2 linked regions of the Homo sapiens genome follow. The protein of the gene in region 2 purifies or fractionates together with the protein of the main gene of each other region. This does not show direct contact. Each region holds a gene or a part of one and is shown on either strand. Other genes may lie near its edges. The genes, in order: ZNF423 and RARG.

Evidence for each region.
Region 1: the proteins of RARG (region 2) and ZNF423 purify together in Homo sapiens (co-immunoprecipitation; one study listed by IntAct). This does not show direct contact.

Annotation. Positions count from the first base shown.
Region 1 is NC_000016.10:49,845,916-49,849,734, forward strand, and holds part of ZNF423 (zinc finger protein 423), read right to left. Parts: intron 1-3,819. UniProt on the Homo sapiens protein: Transcription factor that can both act as an activator or a repressor depending on the context. Plays a central role in BMP signaling and olfactory neurogenesis. Associates with SMADs in response to BMP2 leading to activate transcription of BMP target genes.
Region 2 is NC_000012.12:53,212,606-53,215,494, forward strand, and holds part of RARG (retinoic acid receptor gamma), read right to left. Parts: intron 2,830-2,889; coding exon 2,688-2,829; intron 2,002-2,687; coding exon 1,841-2,001; intron 1,631-1,840; coding exon 1,454-1,630; intron 1,096-1,453; coding exon 891-1,095; intron 639-890; coding exon 480-638; intron 1-479.

The sequences.
Region 1 (3,819 bases), on a different chromosome or scaffold from region 2:
CTTCCCCTGAGAAAGGCAGGACATGGGGCTGCTGGAGGGACTGGGGATTTGAGCTATTCACTGTGGCCCCAGGAGGTGGAACCAGGACCAACACAGAGAGGAGACTGCAGCTTCATGTGTGAAATTCAAGCTAAAAAGCCACGGATGAGGCCGAGGCAGGCGGATTACCTGAGGTTAGGAGTTCGAGACCAGCCTGGCCAACATGGTGAAACTCCATCTCTAATAAAAACACAAAAATTAGCCAGGCCTGGTGGCACATGCCTGTAATCCCAGCTACTCGGGAGGCTGAGGCAGGAATTGCTTGAGCCTGGGAGGTGGGGGCTGCAATGAGCCAAGATCGTGCCACTGCACTCCAGCCTGGCTGACAGAGCAAGACTCTGTCTCAAAAAAAAAAAAAAAAAAAAAAGGCATAGATATGCCACAGAGGTAGTGAGCGCCCTGCGAGTGAAAGTGTGTACGTCCAGGCTGGATGAAACCAAGGTTGCCAGAAACACACCCAAAGAAGTGTAAATGAAGTGAGCTCCAAGGTTCCTTTTCAACCTGTGTTTTTCAGGATTAGGAGAGGCTCAAAGGCAAAAACAGTGAATCTTCCCAAAATGTGTGTCTGGCCCCTGGCTGGCCAGCGTCTCCCTAAGGGGCACAAGGCATCTGCAGGGGCTGTCCTGGGCACTGAGAACCCGTGCACTGCTTGCTGCTCCCCAGAGACCCCAGCACTCTCTGTGGCCTCCACCCCAGAGACAGAAGCCTGCCTCCTCTTTCCATCTCCCCACTTCAGGGCACCTGCTTCTCCTCCCTCTCCCTCTCCCTGGGGACCCTCAGGAGCTGATGATTGTCTCTCCTCTCTCCAAGTTCAAAACTGCAGCCACAGGGGGTGAGGGACAAAGCCATATCTCTTGTTCAGGAACCAAAAATATACTCTATGTTGCTGGTGGCTCCAAGGTTCTGCAGCCTCCAGGCCAAGGAGGTCCCCCTGCCCAGTCTTCCAGCCTGAATGTGTAGTCATACCAACCCAGCTGCCCTCTCCAGCCATGCCCACCTCCCTAACTAAGCCCAGATGGTCATCACTCTGCCTTCAGGCAGGTAAAATTCAGTGCAACAGGAGTTAGGTGAACAGTATGTTTTATTTAATTAGGATCAACAGAAGAGATAAACCTCACAGCAGGATAGGGAATGACAACACTGCAAAAAATAATTCATGCCCAGGTAACGAAAGGGCAAATTTCAATTACAGAGAAAACAGGGGGAGAAAAAGTTTCCAAGCACCTCCAAGGAGCGAGGCAGTGAAGAGTTTGCAAAGCCTAGACCTTTGGGCCCAAGATGGTCTAGAAAGCAAGGCAATCAAGTGGACAAAACAGCCATTCTTCTCTCTCCTTGTCATAGACAAACTGGCCTAAGTGTGCAGGACTGGGTAGGCCGAGGGAGCTGAGTCCTGGCAGGCAGGCATAGGGGCCACAAGGGATCTGCCAGGGCCACTGGGCAAGCTCGCAACCCACCAGGCACAGTCTCAAAAGAATGCTGTCCCCACAAGGAGACAAAACAAATATTCTAATCCTAATAATGGTCATCAGATCACTCAGCAAGTCCTTATTAGCACCCCACCTGCCCTTTCCCCCAGCCCTGATGGAACCCTAGTCTTATGCCCTGCCCTAGCCTTGGACAATCCAATCTCACCTCTTACACTAGAACAAGGCAAAGAACATACCCCCCCGCCCCCCGCCGAGAGAATGGCCTCATCTTCTAAGCCTCTGTTTCTCATTCTTACCCTGGAAATGGGAGGCTGGCCTGGATGACCTCCTCTGGGGTAGTGGGCTGCAGATCCCTAATCCACCATCATTTGGGTGCCAACTATAAATGAAAAATTCATGGTGGTGACAGCCCGACAACAATGTGTATGTACTTAATGCCTCTGAAAAATGGTTAAGATGGGCCATGCAAGGTGCCTCATGCCTGTAATCCCAGCATTTTGGGAGGTCGAGGCAGGAGGATTCCCTGAAGCCTGGCATTCAAGACCAGCCTGGGCAGCATAGACCCATCTCTACAAATAATAAAATTAAGAAATTAGCCTGTAGTTCTAGCTACTCGGGAGACTGAGGTGAGAGGACTGCTTGAGCCCAGGAGTTCAAGGCTGCAGTGAACTACGATCACGTCACTGCACTCCAGCCTGGGGGACAGAGCAAGATCCTGTCTGTAAAAAAAGGAAAAAAAAATGGTTAAGATGGTAAATTTTAAGTTACGTATATTTTATCAAAATTGCTTAAAAGCAGGAGTTGGGGGATGAAGAGATCTAAGCCCCTCCTCAGACCAGCCAGGTGAGCATCTGCAGGACCTGGGCCCAGGAATATGCAATTTAACCAGCTTTATTGTAGGTGACGGTGATAGGCATGACAGCTGGGGATCCACTCATCTGTATGAAGCCACCCTTTCCCCAAACAAAGGCTCCCCAGCATAATGCTTGAATTACCTCAAAAAATACTTCTTCTGCAAATGAATATTCAAAACAGTGAGTTCTCCAACTTTCATAGCACAAGCAAATCTTTTTCTGTATGGGTTCTCCCTCCAAAACAAACCCTCGAGAAGCACAAGCATAACCCAGGCCTCTGTCTCTCTCCCGGCCCCTGGTCCCTGCTCCAAAGGTGACATCAGCCCCAGCACCCCCATTATCTGGGAGAGGGAAATTGCTGTTAAATTAGCACATCCACAGAGCCCCATTTTATATCCCAATTCAGAAGATGACATGAACATCTGCTTTCACTTCAAGACATTAATTTTCAATTATTGGAGAAAAACAAAATTAGTCCTGACAAATTGCTGGCGAATACAGGCTCTTGTCTGGTGGTTCATAATAATAACTTCGGGGGCCCACAATTAGTGTCTCGGACGGAGTTTCCTGATGGATCCCTGTCATCTGGAGGCAGTTGGCAGCAGGGCAGCACCTCGCACCGCAGTGTATCAGGCAGGAGGATGCTCCAACAACCCGCAGCTCGAAGGTCACTGCTTCTTGGATGACCAGGTTTAGAGAACTAAGGAATTAGGGTTTCCTCTTTCTGGGGAAGGCAGGGAGGGACAGAAGATAGGGGGCAGGCATCTAAAAAATATCCACCTGAACCATATTCAGCTTTGAATATTTTTCAAGGTTTTCTCCTCCTGTTCAGTAGCAAGATTTTGCACACTTAGACGGGAATGCAAATCACTCCTGAGTCCTTAGTGGGCACACTGGGATCACCTGATAGGATCGCCTTATGATTGGAGTTTGCCATCTGCAAAGGGAGAAGGACAGATGACATGATTTTCTTATGAGACCCCTTCTACCCTTCTACATGACGTCATTCAGGATCCCAAATCCAGAACTCAATGGCTCCAGCCTCTGAGATACAAATGCCTATAAATCTTCTGTAAGAAAAAACTGTTTGCCAGGGTCCCATCGACCCAGAACCTGGTTCAGCCCAGGTTGTAGTCTCCACAAAAAAAAGAAAGAAAGAAAACTCTGAATTTGCCAACCTCAATGACCCCAAATCCAGAGAACAACCCACTTGATAAGAGATTATCAACACTGCAATCTCATTTGATGGGTTTTTATGTATCTTGGCTGCTTTAGTCACTATATCAATAAGAAGCCACTGAAATGTGAATGAGTTGAAGAATTCGGAGATAATGATGTGGTTGCCTTTGAATTTGACTTGTCACAATTGAAACCAGAGTGTGTTTGCCTAGCTAGGATGTTCAGACTCTTGAGGGGGGTGAGGCAAGAGGGAGGGGAGGTAAACAGAGGGAGGCAGGTTAAAAAAGAAAGAAAACGAAACAACAACCACAACAACAAAG
Region 2 (2,889 bases):
GCTTTACATTGTATATTAACTAATTTAGTCCTCAAGACAGCGTTACAAGGTACGTGAAGAATAGCCCAGTTTACAAACAAGATTAAAAAAGTAAAGCAATTTGCCCAAGACTTTGTCTCTAAATATATATATACACACACACACACACACACACACACACACACACACACACACATACTTGGAATTGTGCTGAATTAAAAATTCAATTCTGCAGTTGCAGTAGTCACATTTCAGATGCTTAATAGCCACATGTGGCTAATGACTATTGTATTCCCATCATTGCAGAAAGTTCTACTGGACAGTACTGGTTTAGAAGCAATTTGCCCAAAGTCTCCCACTACTATGTGGCAGAGCTAGGATTCCAGTGTAGATTGCCTGGTTCTCAACTACTCTGTTCTTGTCTCTGTGTGTCCTCCTGTCCGACCTGGGAGACCAACAGCCCTGGGAAGACAGAGAGGGGACACCCACTCATGACTCACCCTTAGTGCTGATGCCCCGGAGGTCGGTGATTTTCATTAGCATCCTTGGGAACATGTAGGGCTGGCTGGGCCGCCGGCGCCGGGCGTACAGCCTCAGGGCTTCCAGCAGTGGCTCCTGCAGCTTGTCCACTTTTTCGGGCTCCTCCAGGTCCATGCGGTCTATGGGGACAAGTATACTGGAGTGAGAGGGGAAGGAAGAGATGGGGAAGACACAGTGACAGATGGCTGATCACCAACCGGCGTTTTGGGAAGCCTGTACAGGGTTTCAGAACTCTCTGGATGGGGCCAGGTGCAAGAATTACCAGCAGAAGAGACCACTGGGTCCTCCACGCCCCCTCCCAGACAGATTCCGCATGGAGTGGTGGGAAAGGAGACTGAGCACTGAGCAGACGCCAGGGGGCGCCCCCGCACCTCCGCAGATGAGGCAGATGGCGCTGAGCAGCCCTGTCTCGGTGTCATCCATCTCCAGGGGCAGGAGCTGCCCAGCAAAGGCAAAGACAAGGTCTGTGAGGGGCCCGAAGCCGGCATTGTGCATCTGGGTCCGGTTCAGGGTCAGCCCGTCGGAGAAGGTCATGGTGTCCTGCTCTGGGGTGTACCTTGTGCAGATACGCAGCATCTGGAGGTGGGGGGTGGAGGAGGGTTAGTGCTGTTTCTGGGGGATGGGGAAAAGAGGGAATGAGTGGAAAGTGAGGAGGTTAGGTCCCCAGTGAGTGCAACCTGAAGCAGGCATGGAGAAGGCAGAGGTGGAGGATCTGAGGCTTGGCAGGGGTAGTCCCGGGAAGTCAGGAGGAGACAGGGCATCCAAAAGTCTAGGATCAGGTCATAGGGGCAGAGGCTAAGACGAAAAGAGAGCTGAGGAGTCCCACATGTGTGGCAGGGGGTGCAGGGTAAGGAAATCTTTGCATGGATCAAGGAATTGTTGAGGGTCCCATATGTGGGTCGGGCTGTGGCAGGACCCACAGGGCCTAACTTACCAGGATATCTAGGCAGGCAGCTTTGAGCAGAGTGATCTGGTCAGCAATGCTGAGCCCTGTAAAGCCAGGCAACCGCTTGGCAAACTCCACGATCTTGATGATGCACTTGGTAGCCAGCTCACTGAACTTGTCCCACAGCCCCAGATCCAGCTGCACGCGGTGGTCTGCACTGGAGTTCTGCAGAGGGGAGGGGTAGAAGGTTGGAAGGCAAGCTAAGGCCCACCTCTGGGGGCTGTCTTCTCTCTACCAATATCCCAAGCTCTCTCCTCTGCATTCTGATGCCCTCCTTGTCCTCAGCACCAGTCGATGATAGCCTCCAACACAACCCAGCCCCATTCCCCAAAGTGAAGAGTGCCCTGCCCTCACTGGGCTCTGCCCATTCCTCACCGTGGTATACTTGCCCAGCTGGCAGAGCGAGGGGAAAGTCTCCTGATGGGCTTTGCTGACCTTGGTGATGAGCTCTTCTAACTGAGGGCTCAGCTCATAGCTGTCAGGTGACCCTTCTTCCTTCACCTCTTTCTTCTTCTTGTTCCGGTCATTTCGCACAGCTTGTGGGTGGAGGCGCAAGGAGAGGGTCAGGACCCTCAGAGCCTCCCTTTGGGTGTCCTCTCTCACCCTAATTTAATATGCTCAGTCCTTATCATGAATATCTATTCTCTGGCACTGTAATTACTGCCTCAGTTTCCCTATCACCTATAATAGCTCCTATTCCCAGGCTGGTTCTCCCCAGCCCCACCCAGGGCCTGCAGCCCCTGCTCCTTCCCCAGGCCATTCGGCTCCATCCTGTCCTTCCTGTCACCCTGCAGGAGCTGGGGGAGGGGGGGCAGGATATGCAGGCGGCAGGATATCCACTTATAGCCTTGGCAGCACAATGGGGGCGAGGGGGGGGTGGAGAGGAGGAGCCACCCCATATCCATCTCTGGCTCAGTCCAGGGGAGGGAAAGGGACTGGCAAGCCCACTGGCTTCATTTCCCCCATGAAACAGGGGGAATGTGAGACCCTACTTATTCACCCATTCAGAGGAAGAGTCAAGCTCCCTGAGAGGGAGAATGGGAAATGGTGGGGCCTCCTGGTTGAATGGAGCTAATCAAATAAGACTGGCCTGGGAGAAGGCAGCACCCCAGGGCAGGCCAAGTCTCAGAGGTCAGGGAAGTGGGAGTGGCCAGAGGAAAGAGGGCCACAGCCATAGGGTAGGACCGAAGTGCTCCTGCCCAAGCCAAGGATGGCAGCCTACCTTCCTTGGACATGCCCACTTCGAAGCACTTCTGTAGCCGGCAGTACTGGCAGCGATTCCTGGTCACCTTGTTGATGATACAGTTTTTGTCGCGGTGACACGTGTACACCATGTTCTTCTGGATGCTTCGGCGAAAGAAGCCCTGGAGTTGAGGGAAAGAGAGAGGGCCTCTGAAGCACAATGCTGGGAGTACCAGCCTCTC